Homo sapiens: one gene and its partners. The protein of the gene in region 1 interacts with the protein of each later gene in a pairwise test. Each region holds a gene or a part of one and is shown in the gene's direction. Other genes may lie near its edges.

Region 1 (3,500 bases):
TCCAGGCCCTAGATTAGTGGTCATCTTTCAGAGAATGGCTAGAACTCGAGTCTTCTGGGATAGCCTACTAACACGCTTTACCATTGAGGAGTGTCTTCAAAACTCACATCATCTGAATTGCCATGCGTCTCTATATGTGAAAAGTAATTGGAAAGTGTTTCTTGTAGGGGGAAATGTTTTAGGGTTGTTGGGTATCAGTCCTAGAGCTGATTTATGTATATTTTCAACTTAAAAATTATTCCATAGAAATATTTGTGTTGCCGCAGGGGTTGTTAGCTGGGAACCCCAGTGTGTTCTGCTTTGCCTTTCACCCTGTCACAGGGGTTTTCACCTTGACGGCACACTAGATTCACCCAGAAGCTTTTAAAAATGGCAGCACATGGACTGCATCTCAAGAACTTCTCATTTTGGTTGACAGGGGCAGGGTAGAGACGTCACAATATTTTAAAAGCTCCCCAGCCGATTCTAATATGTGCCATGGGTGAAGCTCTAATGCATTCCAAATTGTTAGGAGGAGTAAACAGTTTAGAGAAGAGGTTGGTACCAGTGTGAAGAAGCATATAGAAGCAGAGCAATGCTTCCATAGGATTCTTGACTTTGTCACCCTGACTGCCTTGACCTGGTCACGGCTATGTAAGGCTGACCCTTAACTTGATGTGTAGCTGTGAACCCAACAGTTATGAGCACAAAGATAGTAAACTGAGGCCAGTAGGAGTGCCCAGTTCGGGTTGACTCCTGTGCTAGTTCAAGACAAAAATTTCCTAAATATATATGACGTTGGTTTGATACAGAACCAGCTTTTCTGTTTTCCTGTCCCCATTTAAAAATCTCCTATGTCAATTATACTAGTCTAAAAGACTCCTAGGCCTAATCTGTCTGATAAATTTCTGACGATCTTATTTCTGAGTCAGTCTCACCAACGTCTCTATACATTAATTAACATTATATACATACTCTTGATAACTTTAATAGTTAATATCTATTCTTTTCAGCAAGTTAAGCCCCAAATATTTTTTATTTCTATTTTAGATTTTGGGGGAGGGTTTGTGTATGTAGTGAAGGATCCCCAGTGACTTTCAGTTTTTATACAAGAAATCATTAATAAAGCTAAGAAATTAACTTAGCACATTCTGTTCATCTCTTGTATCAAGTGCAGTTTGTGATCATGTTGTTTTTGTCTAAAAACTTATTTGTAAATTTTTACAGTTCTAAGAATGTATTTTGTGCAATCATAAAGGTTTTATATTAATATATAAGTTATATAATTCACTCTGAAATATCTCAAAGCAAATATTTCTGAAATAAGTAAAATAGTGGTTCTCAAAGTTTTTGGTCATTACATACCTTTACATTCTTAAAAATCATTAGGGACCCCAAAAAACTTGTTTGTGGGTTTATATATTTTGATATTTACTATATTAGAAATTAAAACTGAGAAAATATATATTCATTCAAAAATAATACATTTTAACATAAGTAGCATTTTTTAGTGAAAATACCTATTTTCTATAAACCCTCCAAGTTAATAAGAATAGTGGCATTGTTTTACACATTTACAAATCTCTAATACCAAGCTTAATAGAAGACAGCTGGTTCTCATCTGTGTTTGCATTCTAACTGTTGTGCTATCACACATCATGTAGCCTTTGGAAAATTCCACTATACACATGGGAGAATGAGAATGAAAAAGGCAAATAAATCCTACTAGTATTGAGAAAGGAACTGTAACCTCAAAGACCCTCTGAAAGCGTCTTTGAGAACTACCTTATGCACTTTGAGAACTACTGGTGAATTATTTAATGATGAGGGAACTTTGAGAAAAAGAACTCTGAAGTTCCTGAATTTGAAGATTATTTTACCTTTAGTGGACAAAAGAGTAAATATAAGAGAATGTGACAGTTTGTGTCTGTAGATAGTATTTCCTTTGCAAATTTATCATTTTGAAGGATTTCATTACTACTGAAAAAGTGCAGAACATTTTGGGAGTAAGAATGCTCAATTTCATTTAGCCTTTTAATATCACATAAATTTTTCTTGTATAGGGTTATGATATATTCTCTGATTTGCTTTTTCAAAGCCATACTGCTGTAACTTTTAATTTTCTAATTTCTAGTAGAGACTAAGTCATTTGACAAAGTGAGAATTAAAACTAATAGCTGAATTCCTTCTCTTCTAGCCCTTCGCCACAAGAAGATGGGCAGATCATGTTTGATGTGGAAATGCACACCAGCAGGGACCATAGCTCTCAGGTGTGTCGGGGGGATTCTGATTTACAGTAAACAATTAAGAAAGATGTAAATTCTCTAAGTATATTTTGCTAAAATAAATGTGAAGACTTTTAGGAATAGTTTGAAGCTATTATTGAGTTTCTGATTTTGGAATTTATTTAGGATGATATAGTTCTTGTCGCACTCCTTTACAACTAAGGATTTTGGGCCCTGTCACTCTAAACGAATTGGAAAATTCTTGTCCATAATAAATCATGCCAATACTCCAGGCTAGTTTCTTGAGTGTATAAGTAGAAAAAGACTGAGATAGATGCTTTAAGACCACAGAATAGGGAGGAGCCAAGATGGCTGAATAGGAACAGCTCCGGTCTACAGCTCCCAGCATGAGCGACGCAGAAGACGGGTGATTTCTGCATTTCCATCTGAGGTACCGGGTTCATCTCACTAGGGAGTGCCAGACAGTGGGCGCAGGCCAGTGGGTGCGCGCACCGTGCGCGAGCCGAAGCAGGGCGAGGCATTGCCTCACCTGGGAAGCGCAAGGGGTCAGGGAGTTCCCTTTCCGAGTCAAAGAAAGGGGTGACGGACGCACCTGGAAAATCGGGTCACTCCCACCCGAATATTGTGCTTTTCAGACCGGCTTAAAAAACGGCGCACCACGAGACTATATCCCACACCTGGCTCGGAGGGTCCTATGCCCACGGAATCTCGCTGATTGCTAGCACAGCAGTCTGAGATCAAACTGCAAGGCGGCAGCGAGGCTGGGGGAGGGGCGCCCGCCATTGCCCAGGCTTGCTTAGGTAAACAGAGCAGCCGGGAAGCTCGAACTGGGTGGAGCCCACCACAGCTCAAGGAGGCCTGCCTGCCTCTGTAGGCTCCACCTCTGGGGGCAGGGCACAGACAAACAAAAAGACAGCAGTAACCTCTGCAGACTTAAATGTCCCTGTCTGACAGCTTTGAAGAGAGCAGTGGTTCTCCCAGCACGCAGCTGGAGATCTGAGAACGGGCAGACTGCCTCCTCAAGTGGGTCCCTGACCCCTGACCCCCGAGCAGCCTAACTGGGAGGCACCCCCCAGCAGGGGCACACTGACACCTCACACGGCAGGGTATTCCAACAGACCTGCAGCTGAGGGTCCTGTCTGTTAGAAGGAAAACTAACAAACAGAAAGGACATCCACACCGAAAACCCATCTGTACATCACCATCATCAAAGACCAAAAGTAGATAAAACCACAAAGATGGGGAAAAAACAGAACAGAAAAACTGGAAACTCTA
Region 2 (3,500 bases), on another chromosome or scaffold:
ATGGAAGCACGTCCATAGTACCTGGGCTACAGCTTGAAGGAGCTCTCAGTGAACTAATCTGGGACGAGTTGAGCAATGAGATAAATAGTGATAGTAAAGTGTTACCCATATGATAAATCTACACTGATCTACTATAGATCTACACTGATACAACTAAATGATTAAATAAGTAAATAAAATAAATAGAGGAGAAAGGGCAGTTCTTGCTCACATTAGAACTCTAATAAATGTAGAAGGAATGAAAATAGAAAATTACTTTTAGTCAAACATCACAGTAAGTTATAAGCAAGAATTATCAACAGATGCTAAAAATAGTGACTGAAAAAATTATGGAAGTATGATGAATCTTTATTTGCATAGTCTTCAAACTGTCTCTTCAAATGGTACTTTTTAGTGACAAAATGGTACATAACACTTTGTGGTAGAGAAACCTGGCAGAGAACACCTTAACCAAGTGATCAAAGTTAAGGTCACAGCACCAGAAAAAGTCATGTCAACATCATGAATCCCTTAATACAAGACACTGAAAATGGCAGAACATCACTTTGGTGACATTTGCAAAAAAAAATGTATAACTTCAATCTAATAATAAGGAAACATCAAAAAACCCAAATTGAGGGATATTCTACAAAATCATAGCCAGTCAACTTCTAAAATGTCAAAGACATGAAAGACAAGGAAAGAATAAGGAACTATCAAAGATGCAAGGAAAATACAGAAACATAATGACTAAATGCAATGAGGAATCCTGGATTGGGTCATGGAGCAGAAGGACATTAGTGGGAAACTGGTGAAATGTGAATAAGGAGTGTAAATTAGTTATCACTCTACCAATGTTAAAATCCTTGTTCTATGGTTATGGAAAATTTTAACTTTAGGGGAAATGATATATGGGAACTTTCCATACCCATTGTACATCTTTTCTGTAAGTGTATTTCAAAATAAAGTTATTTTTAAAGAAAGCCAGTGACCCAATTTGTAAGACAGCCTTAAAGAGAAACCAGGCTTTAAAAAACGTATATGAAAAAATGTTCAAGCATAGAAAACAAAAATTTAACCCATATTGTAAAGTTCAGCATAGCTAACTACCTAAAAACTGCTTTCCATTTCATCTTTTTCCTTGCACACAAGGGAACAACACCCTGGACATGGCTCCAGAGATCAACTTGCCGGGCCCAATGAGCCTCATTGATAACACTAAAGGGCAGCTGGTGGTGAATCCAGAAGCTCTGAAGATCCTATCTGCAATTACGCAGCCTGTGGTGGTGGTGGCGATTGTGGGCCTCTATCGCACAGGCAAATCCTACCTGATGAACAAGCTGGCTGGGAAGAAAAACGGTGAGTGACACCAGCAAAGCTCTAAGCCCCTTCTGTCCGTACACACGGCGAACATCCAGCTTAGGGATGTGAGCATAGAAAGAGATGAGAATGAATGTTGAAAGCTAACTTTCAGTCCATTAATGGGCTCTTTACATTGACTTTGGAGGATTACAGTCAACTGACTCTTCCCACTTTACTTTTATTTTATACTAAGGGTATAAATGTGCCTTTCTGGAAGGAACACAATGTTAATAAAGAAAATTAACTTCTATAATAATGACTTATAAAACATTTATTAAAATGTTCATGTAGTGACAGCAAGCTTTCAATGAACTTTAAGAAAAATATGAATGTTTCAGTGTGTATTAAATATCTAATTTTCCTGTTTCCAGGATTGTAATTAAGATTTATGCCAGTTGTATTTTCTTTTATCTCTTTTAACTTCAATTATGTTAACTTTTATCTCAATTTCCAGAAACACCTACTAAGTAATTTCTTTTCCCTTTTATCCTCTCCTTCTACAGGCTTCTCTCTAGGCTCCACAGTGAAGTCTCACACCAAGGGAATCTGGATGTGGTGTGTGCCTCATCCCAAGAAGCCAGAACACACCCTAGTTCTGCTCGACACTGAGGGCCTGGGAGATATAGAGAAGGTAAAAAAAATAAGTATTTTAAAAATTTCACTTAGGTAGATTAAAATCTACATAAACCAGGTCAGATCGATAACCATCTTTGCACAATCACTCCTACTCCTTGATTTAGGGCTCTAGTTAATTATATTAATATATTATTTCTTAAAATTTGTGTGGTATAAGCATTCAGAGTACACAATAAGTTCAATTGATTAATTATGGGTAAACCTATGAAATAATGGCTAATGATGTTTTCAGTTATTTCTCTTTCATATTATAGTAAAATGTTTTGGTGAGGCTGCTGAAGGTGCTTATAAACTTCAGTAGACGTTTTACAAACATGTCTGACTTTTTACAGTGGGATCCCACAAAGGTAGTAAAAATGTTCACATCCACACCAGCACCAGTAGAAAGAGAAGCAAAGTGTAAAATCTAATGATAACATCTTTGCTCATTAAGGATAATATATTACTACTGTTATAAATCTTAGACATAGAAAGCTTTTATTAAAGGAGCTTATTTTAACTACTGTGTAAAAAATATCTTACTATGATGTGCCATGGAAATGGAATAGGGTCATAAACTAAGTTTAGGGTACCAGTTTGAATTTTAGTAGCTGATCAAAATAGCTTCTCCTACCAAGTGCTCATGTGTTTCCTGCTGACATATATTTATATATAACACCTTAAATTATACATCATAAATATTATAAATTTGTTCTACAGGTAGAAAAAAATACTGCATAAGGAAGTGAGTTACCTAAGTTTTCAGAACTAATGAGAGACAGAGTTGGAGTTCAGTCAGTCTTCAGCTATCTGAATTGATTGTACATTCTGCTAGTCATTCTTCTTTGTGGCTTCTACAATGACTTACAGGGTGACAATGAGAATGACTCCTGGATCTTTGCCTTGGCCATCCTCCTGAGCAGCACCTTCGTGTACAATAGCATGGGAACCATCAACCAGCAGGCCATGGACCAACTTCAGTATCCTTTTTTGTGGTCCAGAACAGCAGTAAACCTAGAAAATAACAGCTTCATTTTTTCACCAAGTACAGAGGCAGACAGACAGGTACTGAAGAATTCATAAGTCCTCTCTTTAATAAATCTCATTATGCTGAACATCTCATTCTATCTCAATCTCCATCTGAACTTCAAGTCTTCCCAGTTACATGTCTCGTTAGATACTCAGCCACCCAAGACTCTGTATATCCTCTATCTGACTTAATCTCCTATGCCTGTCCAAACCTTCAATGTCCTCTAGAACTCATGTTCTCACTTCTGCAACTCTCTATATTCTTATCATCTGCTCTAAGTGTTGCCTTCTAAATGATACCTAGCTATACACTATAGATACTATTTCTCCTACAGACCTCTCCAGTGGTCTTATGTGATGACTATTTTTAATCCCATACCTTGCATATCATAAGTGTAAGAGATGAGTTAGGTATCCTCCTTGCTCCATATTAGAGTTCTGGACACTTTCTCATTCCTTTACCATTAAAAAGAGAATCTTCTTTAATATATATGCCCTCAGACTACACCACTATT
Region 3 (3,500 bases), on another chromosome or scaffold:
TGATCCACCCGCTTCAGCCTCCCAAAGTGCTGGAATTACAAGCATGAGCCACCACACCCGGCCAGCAACCACTACTTTTAAGCCAACTTTTTAATAATTTAAATTTTAAGGAATGCCTTTGGTGTGAAAACATTGTGCAACTATACCTATCCATAGTTTGGAGGAGAAACAAGCATAAATTAAACCCAGTAGTGTAAGATGGGTGTTACCATGCCTCTCCTTCACTCTCACTGCACGTCCTGTTGTGATGGAGTTAAGTATGCCAGGCATATACAGCATGTGTGTAATAATGCTCCAAGGATGCAAGAGAGAAGGAAGGGTTTGGAGGTGAAATTAGGGAGAGACCACTTCCTCATTCCTGGTGATAAAGTCATCTGAACTATGCATCTCATGCGATTTCTTCACAGGGCATGTACCCTGTTCTAAAGTCCTCCAGTAGACATTTTAGGTAGCAGAAGAGTGAGAAGCTAAGGCTCTAGTTGTTGATTTATTAACATACAAGTTCAATTATTGGCGATTTTGTGAAATCCATAACATTTCTTAATTTCTAGATACTGCTAGGCCTTTCATACTGAATGACATAGGATTTCTAGCTTCAAAGGAGTTTTTAAGATAAAGACTTATGTTACATATTTTCAGATTACCCTTTTTTTTTTTTTGACACAGGGTCTTGCTCTGTCGCCCAGGCTTGAGTGCAGTGGTGCAATCTTGGCCCACTGCAGCCTCTGCCTCCTGGGGGCAAGCAATTCTATTATCTCAGCCTCCCAAGTAGCTGGGATTACAGGTGCCCGCCACCACACCCAGCTAATTTTTGTTAATTTTAGTAGAGACGGGATTTCGCCATGTTGGCCAGGCTGGTCTCAAACTCCTGACCTCAGGTGATCCGTCTGCCTCAGCCTCCCAAAGTGCTGGGATTACAGGCGTGAGCCATGGTGCCTGGCCGGATTACTCTTTTTAAAAGCTGTACTTGGTAACACTTCTAACCGTCATATATGAATGAATACAACGAAACTAATCATTTTAATTTTCATATTAAAATTAAATAGCAAGATTCCAAGAATACTAGAGGAAATTAGCTTACTTTAAACCTTTTAGATTATCTTTAACAGAATATCTGATGTGCTTGTTGGTCAGTAATATTTGTTAATGTCACAGACATGTTTACTTTGTAATAGCTTAATTGCATAATATCCTCATATAAAGCAAATTAATGAAATTTATTTCATTTTTTGAAATTGCTCACATGCTAATTAAATGAATGTTTTCTGACCCTGATACCTTCAGTGTCTTCATCTATTAATGGTTTTTTAATAAAACAGCAAAATTAAAAATTTTTACCTTCATATGCCAACACACACTAAGCTCTTGTTCTCTTTTATAGGGAAATCCTCATTGACGATTCAATTTGTTGAAGGCCAATTTGTGGACTCCTACGATCCAACCATAGAAAACAGTAAGTATTGTTTTCAAGTACTTAAAAACTGAGAAGCCTTCTTTTGTGTAAAATAGCCATTGTGTATTCATGGAGGCTTTGAGTGCAGGAGGTAAATTCTGTGTGTCTCCCAATTGGGGTCAAAGAAAACTTGCAAAAGATTTACCTACTTTACCCTGAAAGATTTTTCCTTCCATGTCTGCATCCCCTGCCATCTAGAAATTATTAATTCAAGTCAGTAGGAGTCTGGCCCATTACTGGAATCTTCAAATTCCAGAATCTGCTCCAAAACAGGAATGGAGAGCACAGTCTTCTCCCCCACACCCCCTTTCTCCCAGCCATTGCAGTTTCCAGGGATTCCAAGCTTGAAAGAATGAAAAACACTCGAGATCCCTGTTCCTTATTCTTACAGAAGCCGTACTCCCACCCACATTTCTCTATACCCTTCTTTCCAGCCCTAAAGATTTGAAAGAGAAATGAACTATTCTGGGATTGGATAGAGCAGTTGCAGCATTAAAAAGAAGTTGGCTCAAAAAGCCTGTTGACATTTTAGGCCATGTGCAGAAAAAAGCAGGGAAGACAGAACCAGCCATGACCTTTACTTTGTTCAATTTTAATCCATGGTTTCAGAATATTCCTGATGGATTCTAGGACCATGAGACTATTTATTTATTTTATTTTATTTTTTAAAGAGACATGAGTCTCACAGTGTTACCCAGGCTGGACTCAATATCCTGGACTCAAGTGATCCTCTTTCCTCAGCCTCCCAGGTGGCTGGAACTACAGGCATACAACACTGTGCCCAGCTTTGAGACAGATCTTGATTCTAGGGATCGCCAAGGATAATCTGAAGCAGGGAAGCTGGTCTTTTCAGGCTTAGAACCCCAGGTGGGCCCTGGAACTAGGTTTCTCAGATTCTTGAGACCAGGACTTATCTAGGATTTGTCACCAGGAACATGTAGATTTAAACATGGGATTCATCAACACCTGATTGGCATATTAGACACGAAGCATATTTCACCGGCCGGAGGCTTGCAAGAGAATCACTTGAATGCTTTGGCTGACAGTAAAGAGCTTGGCAAACGACAGCCTGCAGGCCAGCAAGGCCCATTTCCTGTCTTTATACAGACCAAGAGCTAAGAAAGGTTTTTCCATTTAAGCATAATATATAAAAGTCCAAAGAAGAATAATGTCTGGCATGTGAAAATTATATGAAATTCAAATGTTAACCTCTATAAAGTTTTATTGATACACAGCCATGCTTGTTCCTTTACATGTTGTCCTTTACATGCTGTACAATGGCAGAGTTGTTGAATAGTAAGAGCAGAGACCAGGTGGCCTACAAAGCCTAAAATATTTACTGGTACTGTCTGGCCCTTTACAGAAAAAGTTTGCTCACCCCTCGCTTAAAATATTTGGCTGTCCTTTGTGTTCCAGTGTGCTGGTAGCAGAGAAGGAAACCTGTTGGTTGATAAACTAACTCCAGGAATATTTTTGAAAGTAACCTTTCAAGATGTTATATTTGAAAGTAACCTCTGGGTATCTACAGGGAGGAGTCCTGATTACATCCTATGATTTGTCTAGCTGGTCATTATATAATAGTAAGCAAGTGTGAGGAGCAGATTAATGTGAGTGCTGGATGAACAAGCTCGGTTTTCTGTCCACTGGAATAAGAACATAAGAAAATCATCATCTTGGACCTTAATATTTGCTATACAAAGCAATTTAGGATTTTAGATCCTTGAAATAATAAGGTTCATTTTGGAATTGTATTAACAGAACAATAGAAGATTGTTTTCTTCGTAAGCTCTGCCTCTAAAAGTGGATATTGTGGCTGTATCCTCATGCCATTTCATACTGAGCTGGAATTAGCTGGGCGTGATGGTGTGTGCCTGTAGTCTCAGCTGAGACAGGCGGATCACTTGAACCCAGGAGTTTGAGGCTGCAGTGATCTGTAATCATGTCACTGTACTCCAGCCTGGGCAGCAGAGCAAGATGTGGTCTCAAAAGTAAAAACTGAGTTGGAAGGAAAGTCATGGAGTTGTGTATCATGGAGCTATATATACAT
Region 4 (3,500 bases), on another chromosome or scaffold:
GAGACCACACACAAAACACAAAACCACGAAAGGCAGGGGAGACTAGGCTGTGGTCCGTGAGTGGTGGATAGTGAGACAGGCTGTAAAAGGTGTGATTACGTAAATGCTATCTGCATTGTTCTTGTAGGTATTAAAACCAGAAAGCTGGCCGGGTGTGGTGGCTCATGCCTGTAATCCCAGCACTTTGGGAGGCCAAGGCAGGCTGATCGCTGGAGGTCAGGAGTTCAAGACCAGCCTGGCCAATATGGTGAAACCCCATCTCTATTAAAAACACAAAAATGAGCCTGGCATGGTGGTGCATGCCTGTAATCCCAGCTACTCAAGAGGCTGAGGCAGGAGAATCACTTGAACCCAAAGGCGGAGGTTGCAGTGAGTCGAGATCGCACCACTGCCCTCCAGCCTGGGCGACAGAGCAAGACTCTGTCTCAAAAAAAAAAGAAAACAGAAAAGCAAGGGAGACATGAATGAAATGTGTTCACCCATAGCGTTGCCTAAGTGTGTGTATATGGATTGATAAAGCAATCCTGCTGTATCAGAAGCATTGACCACTAGGATCCCTTCCAATGTTTAGACTCCATGCCTCTGGTTTTGTTGGCGAAGCGTGCTGAAGTTAGTGACACTGAGCATCAGCGCTGTCCGGATGTTACTATTGCAAGTTTCCTAGCTTATCATGAGCATGGGTCACCGTTGTCATTGCGGCTTGTACTTGGGGAGGGCCACGGTGCACTATTGTGGCCTGACATGGCTGCACTGCTGCAGGAAGACCGTGTAACACAGAGCCTGGGGGCCACCTTCTGCCCAGCTGGACTCCCCACTGCTGCACAGCCCAGGACTGTGGGAAATGAGCATGAAGCATTCCTAAAATAATTAGAAGCTTCTGTTTTCTTACATCTGGGCCCATGTGAACCCACAGATATAGCATGGGACACAGAGTATAGGCAGCAGGCCACGGGCCGTGGGGTCTGAGACCACACTGCGGACAAGCAGGTGGACCCCGAGGCCCAGAGTCTCCCCGACCCCAGCACCAGCCTGTTTGCTTTGGAGCCTGGCTCTGCCCTGCAGCAGTGCTCAGCCTGAGGAATTCCAGACTCCCCACCACTTTGGCCTTGTCGTTTCTAAGAAAGAGCTGGCCGCTGCAAGCTTGGACTGGCATCCTTTTCTGAGGATGTAGCTTTTCAACAGGGTCCAGGAGGAATCACTCCCTTGGGCTCTCCGGGGAAAAAAGCTTAATAAAGATGTCTCTCATTCTCTCATCCTCTTTGTCTTGTTACTCTTGTTTCAGATGTAGTTGCCCATTCAAATACTCTATTTCTGTTTCAGGAATATGTGTCTGGGAAGGAAGGCAGTTGACAGTTGTTGGAAATGAAAACCTAGTTTGCTTGAGATATTTCCTGCACGTCCCCTTGGCTGTGTGTTTGCAGCCCTGCTGGGAAAAGGTGGTGGGGGAGAGTTGTTTTGAGCTGGGAACATCAGCCTGGATTCTAAACTTAGGCCAGCCTGGCCCCAATTTTATATCGACTCTGTCCACCCTGTTTGCAGTCCTGATGGGAAAGAAAGTCTGGCTGGTATTCTCTCTTGTCTGAATATGCCTGAGCCGTGTTCCTTTCATCTCCTGAAGTAGTTGGAAGTGATGGTTGCCGTGTCTGGGCTGTTTAATGTCCAGGGCAGTCAGTGTCTCAGGGGTGAGAGGTTTTCTCCCTTACCAGTTACCTTCCAGCCCATAACGTTGGTTTCTGACTCTGATCCCCTTAACTTCTGCAAGATTCATGAAACTCTTTCTTAGCCATCAGATAGTAACCCAGAATTGAATAGTTTGGTGCTAGAGGGAAGGGAAGAGGGAAGGATCAAAGCCCAGGAAAGACTGGGAGCAGAGCACAGAGGCCCAGGGGGAAAAGGCCAAGTGGATGCCTGTAGGGAGAGGAGGAGGCTGTGATCGAGAAGGGCATGCATGAGGGAAGGAAGAGCTGGGAGACTGCCAGGTAATTCTCAGCCTGGATATTGTGAGCCGAGAGAGAGGAGGAGGCTGTAAGACCCAAGAAAGAGACAGCAGAGGGAGGAAAGAGTGGGATGGAGGGTACTGTCAGGAGAGAAGGCCAGGAGCAAACCTAAGTTCTTCCCTGCTCATGGCAGGCTCAGGAATCAGCTAGAGTTAAAGCTTACCCGGGGCTGCCAAGGGCTCAGGTGAATGCAGGGTGGACGCCGTCCTTGAAGTTCTAAGAATTTCAAGGAGATGCAAGGGTGGAGGATGTACCAGGCGGGGTTGAGTGGAGCTGGGAATCCTGTCACCCAGCATAGAGTGGGTGGGGGGCATGGGCTCACAGGTGTTGCCAAGCAGAATGTGGCAGGCTCAGCTCTGCTGAGATGAAGCTGAGAGCCCACGGGTGTGAGTGGTGCCCTGGGAGCAGCGCCCCTGGGGAAGACAGAGAGGAGGGACCTCGGGTCTGAGGAAGCTGGGAAGCAAGGCCGGGAAGGGGTCTGGTGCTGAGACCAGTTGGGGAACAAGTGTGAGACCTTGGAGGTGGCGCATGGTGGCTCAAAAGCTTGTGTGGAGGCAGAGGGGATGAGGGGGAGGGAGAAGGATGGGAGACATTGTCACTGTGGATTCTGATGTTGCAGGAATTGGGGTCAAAGAAGGAAAAAATGAGAGCCGGGGAGTAGTCAACCAGGAGGGCGCTGGCGGGTCTGGGGAGGGTGCGGAGTGTAGAAGCTGGAATAGGACTTTGTGGTGAGGGGTTAGAATGGGTGGGTTTAGGGAATGGCCAGGTGATGACATCAGCAGCCTGGAAGGGCAGCGGCCAGCCACCCTGTCCACGACTGAGCCTCGGCTCTCCTGAGGCTAGGTAAGACTCCCCTTTATGGGACGCAGTGTCAGGGCCCAGAAGAAGCACTTCAGAGCAGCACCTTTGCCTCTGTTTCAGGATCGCTGGTGACACAGCCCTCAACAAAAACATCCACGAGTCCGTCAGCGCCCAGATCCGGAAAAACTTTGCCAAGAGCAAATGGAGAGTAAGTGTGGAGTATATGAAATTCCCCGTGGATTAACCCCCTCGTGACACTGGCCCTCCAATCTGAGCATTTCTGAAATCCCCAGAACCTCACCTGAATAATTTTGCTAATTTTAACTGCAAGTAATAAAGACTCAGAGGGAATATTATGGTGTAAGAGGGATGGAGTGTGCAATTCAACACTTCCCCTCTGTGATCAAAGACAGCAATAGTGCCAGCTCTTCCTCATCTGCTGTTTCTTAACCAACATCACCCTTGTCTTTCTTCACCTTGCTAGAACTTTGAATAGCTGACTTTTATTAAAGCGATATGGAGGGGGAAAAAACAGGAAATCTGAGTTGTACTCATCAATGTTTCCTGATAAAAGTTTGACAGATTTAAACCATGGAGGTTTTGTGATCATCTGTTGATTACCTGACTTCCTAATCTCTTGATTACCTGACCTCCCCTCCGTGTTCCAATCAGCAATGGCAATTCAGAGCTAGCTATTTTGCC
Region 5 (3,500 bases), on another chromosome or scaffold:
GGCTGGCATGGAAGCGAGGTGCTGCCCTTCCCGTGCTTCTTAGGTTCAGGGTCCAGTGTTTCATAGATGACTTGGAGCATTGCTTTGTACGCCCGGCCCTGACACATTGGTGTCGTGGTCACCTCATCTCATCTATTTCTAGAGGGCCCCTCCCAATATATCCTTCCAAGGTATTTTCTCTGCATCTCTCCCCTTAACTCCAACTGGGGGCGGGTGTCCACTGTCCATGTGATTTATGATTGTGCATCTGCGTCTATTTTTGCCCCAAGTCTGTTAGCATTTCCCATTGGACATGTGCGTATATGCAGAACGTGCATATGAGTGGAACACAAAGGAATATGTATCAGGTGGAATGTGGACGTGGCATCAATCCATGTGTTGAGGAAGTCATTCCTGTTTCCAATCTCAGTCTGTGTTGAGTCAATGGGACGGTGCCTCTCTGTCGATGGTAGCTTGTCTGTGACAGCTTTCTAACACTTGCTAATCTCTCCTTTGATCAAAAAAAGAGCAAGTCTTTACCATAACCCCATAAAAACACCATTATCACGAGTGGAAATTTTAAAACTGTATTTGAATTGTATTTATTTGCATGCTCAACTTTTTTATAGGTTAAATGATACTGGTTTTCTACTTAGGTTGGTGGCATTTATTTCTTCTGAAACAAATAATATGAAGCGAGTAGATTGGATTAAGAGGTTTGGATAAGGAATTGCATAATTGGCGCGAAGACAGGGTCCTCTGTTATGAAGGGGGCACGCAGATGTCTGAAATGCTGGTAACAGGACCTTAGCATTACTAACGCCTGCACTGCGATTCCCTCCCCACAGTGACGGAAGGTCGAGGGATCCTTGAGAGCATCCAGAGGTTTTCCTTGCTGCCCACCTACCTCCCCGTGACCTACCACATCAACAACGCGGACGTCTCCTTCTTCCTGAAGGAGGCCAACCAGGATATCATGAGGAACTCCAGCCTGCAGTCCCGGGTGGAGTCATTTCTGATTTACAAATCCAGGAGGCTGCCTGTCCTCAATGCCAGCTACGGGCCTTTCTCCATCGAGCAAGTGGTGCCCCAGGATTTAATGCTACCTTCCAACCCATTTGGATTCACCAACAAATTTTCTCTTAACTGGAAACTAAAAGCCCACATCCTGCGGGACAAAGTCTACCTGAGCCGGCCCAAAGTGCAGGTTCTGTTCCACATCATGGGCAGAGACTGGGACGACCGCAGCGCCGGGGAGAAGCTGCCGTGCCTGAGGGTCTTTGCTTTCCGAGAGACCCGAGAGGTGCGGGGCAGCTGCCGGCTGCAGGGGGACCTGGGGCTGTGCGTGGCCGAGCTGGAGCTCCTGTCCAGCTGGTTCAGCCCCCCCACGGTGGTTGCCGGGAGGAGGAAGTCCGTGGACCAGCCGGAGGGGACCCCCGTGGAGCTCTACTACACCGTGCACCCAGGGGGTGAGAGAGGGGACTGCGTCAGGGAAGACGCGAGGAGAAGCAATGGGATCCGGACAGGCCACAGTGACATCGATGAGTCCGGGCCCCCCTTGCAGAGGATCGGGAGCATCTTCCTTTATCAGACACACAGGAAACCCTCCCTGAGAGAACTGCGTCTGGACAACAGCGTGGCCATCCACTATATACCAAAGACCGTGAGGAAAGGAGACGTGCTGACTTTTCCTGTTTCCATCTCCAGAAATTCCACTGAAGATCGCTTCACGTTGAGGTAAGTCGTTTCCCAATGTCTGTCTGTACCCGCCCGTCGATCAGGTGGTGTTTTCCAGAAGCTGTTTGACCAGAAAAGCTGTGTTATCGCTCACCGAAGTAGAGCCGGCCTTCCCGTTCTTACAAACTCCATCTGCACCGTGGAATACAGAGACCAGTCTGATCGTTCCGGGTTGGCAATTGGGTTGTGAGAATATTCGTCTTAATAGATTTTCCAAGCCATTGATAGGGCAGCCGGGGGGCTGCTGATGGTACGCCTTTTCCCTTAGCTTAGGGTATTATCAGCAAGTTTTGGGAATGCTAAAATTATCCAAGAAGGCTTTTCAAAATTGGGAGAGTTAAATGCCTCACAGCTGAAATGAGACTGCAAATGAAATGGCAACAGTTGTCAGAAAGGACAGGGAACACGGTTTTGCCAACTCAAAATCTATTCCAGATATGTAAGTTCTAAGTATAATATGGTACCAACCTCAAAGTTACCATTTTGTTTCTCCCTGGAAATAGAACTTAGTGTTCAAAAAAATAAATGAGCATAACGTGTGAAGAATATACAGTAGAATTTGTTGAGTTTCTTATATAAGAATATACCAAAGAGAAGACATTGAAAATAAGCTCTGTGTACTTTAGAATAAATATAGGCTGGTTTTCACTGTGGAATATAACGTATGAGAGAAGCTACTTGCCTAGGCTTGTTTGTATTTTCATTATATAGTTTTAGTTTTATTTTCAACACAGGCAAGTTTGATTACAACAGCTGTTTAGTAGAAGTGTTTTTGGGTTATTAAAAATGTCCTAGCACTGCTACATAACTCAACAATTTGACCTGATGTGCAATGTAATAAAATGTGTGTTATGACTCCTGAAATGAGGAGTGTAACTGTATGTAAGACATGTTTCATATGTGGGCTTATAAACTTCATCCAATGATGACCAGCTCTCTATCCCCCTTCATATGGGATTTATGGCTGCTTTTTCTAGCTTTTCTTTTCTTCTTTTCTTTTTTCTATTCTTTTCTTTCTCCCTCTCTTTCTCCCTCTCTCTTTCTCCCTCCCCTCTCCTCTTCCCCCTCCCCTCCCTTCTCCCCTCTCCCCTCCCCTTTCCTCCCCTTTCTCCTCCCCCTCCCCTCCCCATCTCCTCCCCCTCCCCTCCCCTCCCCCTCCCCCTCCCCTCCCCTCTCCCCTCCCCTCCATGCCGTCTCCCCTCCCCTCCCTCCCCTCCCCCCTCCCCTCTCCCCTCCCTTCTCCCCTCCCTTCTCCCCTCCCCTCCCCTCCCTTCCCCTCTCCCCTCCCCTTTTTTCCTTTATGTTTAAAGGGTGGATGAGTTTAAGAAAATAAATCACCGTTTTGATTCTACCTTGCACATTTAAGTTTATTTGATTGTGACCTAGTATTAGAAATGCCTATTTTAACTAAAGAAACAGAACCTAATGGACATGCATCTAATGACTGAACTTGGCTAAGTCCTGGAAGGTAAAAACCTTTGGCCTGGCTGGACGTGCCATTCGCGGAATAGCCGCAGGGATTTAGGGTACAGGAACACATCTGCGCTGGCCAAGCCTTCATTAGCGTTCCCTTCCGTCCTTCTGGAAATCGGATCTAGATCCAGCTGGCCACAGGTCCTCAATGAGGTCTGCTAGCTTTGTGTTTTACTTTTCTGGGTTCAACAGTCTTACATAGTATTCTTTGTGAGGATGGCTGCTTACGTAGAGAAATATTTTGGTGGTGGAAACAAAAAGTTTGAATAGGGGAGCTTTGATCTTACACCGTTTCATACCGTCTGCCATTT
Region 6 (3,500 bases), on another chromosome or scaffold:
GACACAAATTTACCTATGTAACAAACCTGTACATCCTGCACAGGTACCCATGAACTTAAAACAAAAGTTTTTTAAAAAAGAAAATAAGAATACCTATTCATCATTGGGTATATTGTACAAAAAATAAAAGCAAATTAAATGAAAAAAAAATTAGCCAGGCATAGTGGCACACACCTGTGGTCTCAGCTACTCCAGAGACTGAGGTGGGAGGATCACTTGAGCCTGGGAGGTCGAGGCTACAGTGAGCTATGATCTTGCCAATACACTCCAGCCTGGGGCGACAGAGTGGACCTTGTCTCAAAAGAAAACAACAATGACAAAAGAAAATCCCTATAGAAAATGAATAATTTTTTTTGGTAAGGTTGGTATATTTTTCCCTTTGGGTCTCAGAAATTATTTATGCATTAACGATAACCAGTGAAATCTAAGTATTGAAAATGTTTTATAAATAGACTTTTCTATGACTGTACCTCTCATATCATCTCCATTCATATTTCATATTGATGTGTAAGAGAATTCTGCATTGATCAAGACTCTTTGGATCTGTTTTGGGCAGCACTTATTCAATTATTAATATTTTAAAATCTTTTTTTATTTACCATTTACAGGAAATAGTAGTAGAAAAAAAGTATAGCTTTTTATGGTAATGTTTGAGGATCAAAACCTTAGTAAACTTTATTAGTATCTCATATCTATTTTAAACTTGAAAACATGTTATCTTATTAATTTTCCAGGTATAAAATGAACACTGTACATATCCTGCAAACGTTTAATTTATTCATATTGAAATCTAACGGAACTGCTAAGGATTTAGGTGATTACTTAAAAGACCTCGATATTTCTCCTAAGTGCTGTAGGAAACCATAGATACTTGGAGGCTGGTATGTTTGAGTCTCTGTGTGTGTATGAGATGTGTGTATATGGGGTGTGTGTGTATGTGATGTAATTGTGTTAATAGTTTATAAAGGGCTGGGCGTGGTGGCTCATGCCTGTAATCCCAGCACTTTGGGAGGCCAAGGCGGGCAGATCACGAGGTCAGGAGATCGAGACCATCCTGGCTAACACGGTGAAACCCCATCTCTACTAAAAATACAAAAAATTAGCCGGGCGTGGTAGTGGGCACCTGTGGTCCCAGCTACTCGGGAGGCTGAGGCAGGAGAATGCGTGAACCCGGGAGGCGGAGCTTGCAGTGAGCTGAGATCCTGCCACTGCACTCCAGCCTGGGTGACACAGCGAGACTCCATTTAAAAAAAAAAAGTTTATAAAGGTCACTTTGATCACATTGTGCACGGTAGGATAGAGGAGATAGGTATGGATGTGGGAGATATTGAACCAGTTCAAGTGAAACAATGGTGGATGAAAAGATATATGGGTGACAAAGTTGAGAACTATTTCAATGGTCTTTACCAACATGCTGACTTGGAAGATATAAGTGTTTTATCCCATGACTTTGATGACCCCTTTATGGTCCATCCATTTGCTTATTTCATCCAAGAACTCCACTGGTTAGATGATTATAATATTCACAACCCAGGCCACTCAATGTTATATCTCCAATATCGTAGGGACATAGAATATTTATTGATTTTGAATAGCATTATTTCTTATGCATTGGTCATGTTTTGCAGGGCTGGTGCAAACTTGAGATTGAATGGTCAGAAAGGAAAGTGTGGGAGTTGTATGCTTAGCATCTTACTTCTCAAACAGCTTGGTGTAGTATACAAAGTACTGATTCAGAATTTAGAGAGACCCTGAGTAATCTCTATTTTTTGCTAGCTGCTAACCTTGGACAAAGTTCTTAACTTTCCTTGTAAGTTGATCAGAGTAATAACTTTCTTGCAGGTTTGTTGTAGGTAAAGGCAGAAATGCATGTAGATGACCTGGAAGGATGCTGGGCTTCTCCTAAATAGTATCTTTGGTATTCTATTATGATTACTTTTGGAGCAGAACATAAGCTTGCAGGATAGTGTTAAATGCAAGGTAAAATTACTATTTTATATTTTGCTTGAAACTCAAATAAAGATAAATTTTTATACTTACCATCAAGATGCTCAGGATAATAAGATCATTCGTGTTCCACACCAAGCGTGAAGGTTTCATGTCTGCCTTGCTTTATTAGTGAAGATAAGTTTTTTCCTTGGCTATTTTTGGATGTGTTGAAACAAAGCAGTTTTATATCAACCAGTATAATTTTCCCCTTCTCTCACATCGAGAAGTGAGCAGGAGTTGTCTGTCTAAGCAAGTAGTTTTCACATATCCAACATGCATCTGCAAAAACTTAACAATATCCTCTAGAACACAGGGAATCTTTCTTGGACAAAGTTCTGCTCATGTTCAGCCTCTCTCTTAGAACTAGAACTGAGTGTTATTCCTGCTCAGTGGCTCCGTTTCACCCCACCAAAGCTGACAGTGGGGCATGTGTAACAGACTGAACTGGAAGTTGGAGGAAATGAAGTAAAATTACAGTTCTATCACATACTGGCTGTGGGAACGTGGATATGTCACTTAACTCACCGAGCTTTTTTTCATTGCCACCTGTAAATTGGGAACACATATATTACTTATCTCAAAAGATTGCTATGAAGATTAAATAAAGGCACATGTAAAGACACCTGGAATAGTGCCTGAATGTAGTAGGCAGTTGTATCCACCCAAACTAGTACTGAAAAGAAACTCATTGACTTCCATAAACTCAAAGTCTGAGGAGTAAAGATGGCTTCAGGCTTGGCTTGGCTCAGTGTCCAAATGATAATCCCAGGTTTTATGTGACAGTTCTGTTTCTTCTAAAATAGCTTCATTCTAGCTCCATATGGTGACTTTCAGAAGCTTTGAGATCTCCCCACACTATCTCAGTAAAAGAGAGATATATTACTACTCTCTGCTGTCATTATATATACTATGTGTCAAGCACTGCACTTTACACAAAGCTCACAGGGTACAAATGCAATGAGGTTGGTTCACTGAAGGCAGGAAGAGGGTACTGTTGCTATCAGAAGAGGAGTGGAGGTGAGGCTTTTAAAAACTAACAAAATATGTACAATATAGCATTTAATAATTGCTCAAAACAAATAAGGTCAAGAGGCTATTTGACTGTAATTGACATTTGCACTCACAATAGTGCCGATTTCCAGAGCAGTGGTTCTTAGCTAGAGGTGATTTTGCTCCTAAGGGACATTTGATAATGTCTGGAGACATTTTTGATTGTCACAACCTGGGCAGGGGGTGTTACTGGCATCTAGTGCATAAAAGGGCCAGAGATGCTGCTACAGGCACAGAATAGTCCTTGACAACAAAGGATTATCAGGTCTAATCATGTGGTTGAGAAACCCTACTCTAGCAGGTGTATGAGCCATTGAAAATCATCACTACCATTTACTGAGCCCTTACTATATGAAAGCCTCTGTACTAAGAGGCTCATTACCTCATTTGAGCTACTCATTATCATACAAACTAGGGGATACAGTTATTTCCCTCTTAAAATGAAACCTGGGCAATGGCAA
Region 7 (3,500 bases), on another chromosome or scaffold:
TTATAGGTGATTATCTTCTTCCTTATATCTTTTTTTCCCCCAAACTTTCTACAATGCATATGTATAATATTTACAGTTTAAAAATGCTTTAAATTTAGTTTGTAGCTTGCCCATGTTTAACCAGTGAGGTCTAAAATGCTAGCTATGTGATACGACTTAAGGCCCATAGGACTCAAAAATTGGAGTCTCCGTTAAAAAATGGTGTTTTCCAGTAATATGCAATGACGTGAAGATGAAAATGCTATTATATAAAGTAGTATATGGCATATAATTCCAATTTGTTAAAAAGTACACACATATATACTTATAAAGATACTAGAGGAAAACATAAAATGCCAACAGGTCAGTTGTTGGTGTAGGGCATGTGGGCGATTTACTTTCCCCTTTTTGTGTCCTTCTGTTTCCACTTATTTATTTATTTATTTTTAATTTTTAATTTTCTTTGAGATGGAGTCTCACTCTGTCACCCAGGCTGGAGTGCAGTGGCATGATCTCAGCTTACTGCAACATCTGCTTCCCGGCTTCAAGTAATTCTCCTGCCTCAGCCTCCCGAGTAGCTGGGATTACAGGTGCGCACCACAACGCCAGGCTAATTTTTGTATTTTTAGTAGAGATGAGGTTTCCTTATGTTGGCCAGGCTGGTCTCAAATTCCTGGCCTCAAGTGATCCACCCGCCTTGGCCTCCCAAAGTGCTGGGATTACAGGCATGAGCCACCACACCTGGCCCTGTTTCCAGTTATTTATAATGAACATTATCAGCATCTTTTATAATTTGAAAAAATTCAAAATTTAGTTTGAGAAGAAAAACATTGCCTCTATCTAGATATGGAATATCGGCTATCTTTTCAACTTGTCTTTCTCTCCCGTGCCTCCCAGCCATCCTTCTATTCCTCCTCCACTTGGTGCCATAGGTTCCTCTCGCCTTCCATTCCCATAGCTGCTCCTCTGTCCGCAGCTCATTTCCTCTTCTCCAGAACATAGCAATCTCTTAACCTAGTTTGTTTTCCTGCCGTCCCTTCTCTCTCTCTCTCTGACCTACTTCTGGAAGCACAAATGCTGGAATAATCCACGTGGATGACACTGCTCCCTTGCTTAACAGCCTGTGGCTCACCGTCCTAATGCTATTACTGGGAGTGTTCAGCCCAACCTTGTTACTGGCTGCCTTTACAGGGCTGGGGAGTGGGATGCAACAGTTACCAAGCCCCACCATGGGCCAGGCTCTGGAGGGCAGGCCCTTTTTTGTTAACTCACCTTTTGTGACAAAACCATGCAGCTTGACCATGCTAGCTTGGAAATAGGGTTCCAAAGTGTGTATTCATGCTACTTACAGACTCAGCTCTGCCGCTGACCTTGAACTTGTTTAATCCCCCTGCTTTTCCTCAGCTGTAACACAGATGTCCTGCCTCCCTCCCAGGGAGAGGCGAGGGCTGGGCACTCTGTGGCAGTTGGTAGCTGGTTTCCTTGCGAGCTGTTGTCCCTAAGGGATGCCCTGTACACCTTTGTTGCCCAGAGGTCTCGAACTGTGCTGACTGCCCCTTTGCTGTAAGAGCTCAGCCCAACTCATGAGCCCCCATTATCTCTCCAGCCCCAGGGTGGGCTCCACATGGCAGACGTTCCTCATCAGAAATGTCCCCAACTGTCACCTCCCCCATAAATGCATCCCTCTCAGATTTGACTCTGTTGAAATGTTCAGACCAGCGCCCCCAATTATCTTTATGTTCAGGGGTTCATTTCTTTGAATCTTGACGGGGCTCACTCTAGAACACCTACCAAATTGACAGGGCCACACTGGCTGCTCCCTTCCCCCTTAACCGCTTTGTCCTCATCTCCAGCAATGGCAACATAACCCCTCGGTCTCCCAAAGAAATCTAGGCCACAGCACCCACATCTCCCTCTCCTCAACTCCACATGCCAAATCCAGCTCCTTCTCTCTTTCCTAAGCATGGTCCAAGTCCATCCCACTACATTGCTTTGTGGGCCTAAAAGGAAGAGGCTGTAGCACAAACCAAGACTTAAGGAGTTTACTTGAGCCAAAGTGAGGACAGATTCCTGGAAGGCCCAGACCCAAGTAACCTTGGACATTATCTCTGTTTGGCCTTTGTTACAAGCAGTTTTTTTAAAAAGGCAAAAAAGAGGGACCGGGAGTGGGCTGATACAAAGTTGTTAGGAATTCTCATTAGTTTACAGAAATAACATTGATTAGCGACTGGTTATACATTGTTACACTACAGGGTGTGGGTTATAGTGTCCAGTGTGGCATTATTAGGTTATTTTTTAGCTACTTGTGCCAATGGCAAGCAGTTTCAAGAGATGAGGCCAGGTGTGGTGGCTCATGTCTGTAATCCCAGCACTTCGGGAGGCCGAGGTGGGTGGATAACTTGAGGTCAGGAGTTTGAGACCAGCCTGGCCAACATGGTGAAACCCTGCCTCTACTAAAAATACAAAAATTAGCCTGGCATGGTGTCTTATGCCTGTAATCCCAACTACTTGGGAGGCTGAGGCAGGAAAATCGCTTAAACCCAGGAGAACGAGGTTGCAGTGAGCCAAGATTGTGCCACTGCACTCCAGCCTGGGAGACAGAGAGATACTGTCCCAAATAATAATAATAATAATAATAATAATAATAATAATAATAATAAAAAGATGAATACACAGCTCAAAGTGGGGACTAGAACGTTATTGCTGTCTCATTTTCATGATTCTCTGGGCCTGATAATTTAAAAGGGCTTGCATTCCTCAGATAAAAGTTACTTTCTCACCTTTAGTCCATGACTTCCTCGCGTCTTGTCTGAACCGTTGCCATAGGCTCCTCTTATGCTTTCTTTGGCATCCCCAGCCTCACCCTGCCCCTACCCATGTCCCTCCTTCCCAAGGCAGCCACTGTTCCCGCTATTGCTGCCACTCAGGGCAGCATGACCTCGCTGGCACACTCCCTGTATTACCGACCTTGAGCTAAGTGCTTTACGCACTGACTCTTATCATTCTCTTGACAACCCCAGAAGGGTAGATTTTAAGATCTCCACTTGACAGATTAGCAAAACCAAGCTTCAGAGAGGTCAGCTAACTAGCCTCAGTGGTGGGCCGGGACCAGGCAGCCAGAGCCTGTCCCTGTAACCACTAGATGCTTGTGCTGCCTCCCTGCAGCGGCCTGGGCCTGTCTGTTGACTTCCTTGTGAACAGGCAGGGACCCTGGGTCTTTGGCTGTCAAATGTTTAATAAGTGAGTGCTTGCCTTGCACGGAACCCACACCACACTTACTCAGGCCCCTGGCTTTGGTTGGGGTCAGGCTCCATCATTTGCTGACCCTTATCTTTAAAAGTTCACCCTGAGGGGAGGAATGTTTTTAAAAGTTTTAAGTTATAGCATCCATTACAAAAACGTTTTCCATTGTGAAACCCCACAGAATTGATATTGTGCTGCAAGGATCAATCCTGCCTGACGCAGGTCTGCCAGCTGCCAAAAAACTGGTTAAACGTGTTAAGTTCAGAAAACCTATTGTC

What was found.
Region 2: the proteins of BNIP3L (region 1) and GBP2 interact in a two-hybrid assay, tested with the Homo sapiens proteins (one large-scale study listed by BioGRID and IntAct).
Region 3: the proteins of BNIP3L (region 1) and RHEB interact in a two-hybrid assay, tested with the Homo sapiens proteins (one study listed by BioGRID).
Region 4: the proteins of BNIP3L (region 1) and CAMK1D interact in a two-hybrid assay, tested with the Homo sapiens proteins (one large-scale study listed by BioGRID and IntAct).
Region 5: the proteins of BNIP3L (region 1) and TMEM132D interact in a two-hybrid assay, tested with the Homo sapiens proteins (one large-scale study listed by BioGRID).
Region 6: the proteins of BNIP3L (region 1) and DOK5 interact in a two-hybrid assay, tested with the Homo sapiens proteins (one large-scale study listed by BioGRID and IntAct).
Region 7: the proteins of BNIP3L (region 1) and GNB5 interact in a two-hybrid assay, tested with the Homo sapiens proteins (one large-scale study listed by BioGRID and IntAct).

What each region holds. Positions count from the first base shown.
Region 1 is NC_000008.11:26,393,054-26,396,553, forward strand, and holds part of BNIP3L (BCL2/adenovirus E1B 19 kDa protein-interacting protein 3-like), read left to right. Parts: intron 1-2,176; coding exon 2,177-2,249; intron 2,250-3,500.
Region 2 is NC_000001.11:89,119,615-89,123,114, reverse strand, and holds part of GBP2 (guanylate-binding protein 2), read left to right. Parts: exon of another isoform or gene 1-1,131; 5' UTR 1,132-1,148; coding exon 1,149-1,338; exon of another isoform or gene 1,339-1,844; coding exon 1,845-1,972; exon of another isoform or gene 1,973-2,826; coding exon 2,827-2,936; exon of another isoform or gene 2,937-3,500.
Region 3 is NC_000007.14:151,488,896-151,492,395, reverse strand, and holds part of RHEB (GTP-binding protein Rheb), read left to right. Parts: intron 1-1,381; coding exon 1,382-1,453; intron 1,454-3,500. UniProt on the Homo sapiens protein: Small GTPase that acts as an allosteric activator of the canonical mTORC1 complex, an evolutionarily conserved central nutrient sensor that stimulates anabolic reactions and macromolecule biosynthesis to promote cellular biomass generation and growth.
Region 4 is NC_000010.11:12,821,547-12,825,046, forward strand, and holds part of CAMK1D (calcium/calmodulin-dependent protein kinase type 1D), read left to right. Parts: intron 1-2,918; coding exon 2,919-3,006; intron 3,007-3,500. UniProt on the Homo sapiens protein: Calcium/calmodulin-dependent protein kinase that operates in the calcium-triggered CaMKK-CaMK1 signaling cascade and, upon calcium influx, activates CREB-dependent gene transcription, regulates calcium-mediated granulocyte function and respiratory burst and promotes basal dendritic growth of hippocampal neurons.
Region 5 is NC_000012.12:129,698,026-129,701,525, reverse strand, and holds part of TMEM132D (transmembrane protein 132D precursor), read left to right. Parts: intron 1-827; coding exon 828-1,716; intron 1,717-3,500. UniProt on the Homo sapiens protein: Regulate neuronals morphology via inhibition of the WAVE regulatory complex (WCR), a complex that controls F-actin cytoskeletal dynamics.
Region 6 is NC_000020.11:54,594,093-54,597,592, forward strand, and holds part of DOK5 (docking protein 5), read left to right. Parts: intron 1-3,500.
Region 7 is NC_000015.10:52,184,893-52,188,392, reverse strand, and holds part of GNB5 (guanine nucleotide-binding protein subunit beta-5), read left to right. Parts: intron 1-3,500. UniProt on the Homo sapiens protein: Enhances GTPase-activating protein (GAP) activity of regulator of G protein signaling (RGS) proteins, such as RGS7 and RGS9, hence involved in the termination of the signaling initiated by the G protein coupled receptors (GPCRs) by accelerating the GTP hydrolysis on the G-alpha subunits, thereby promoting their inactivation.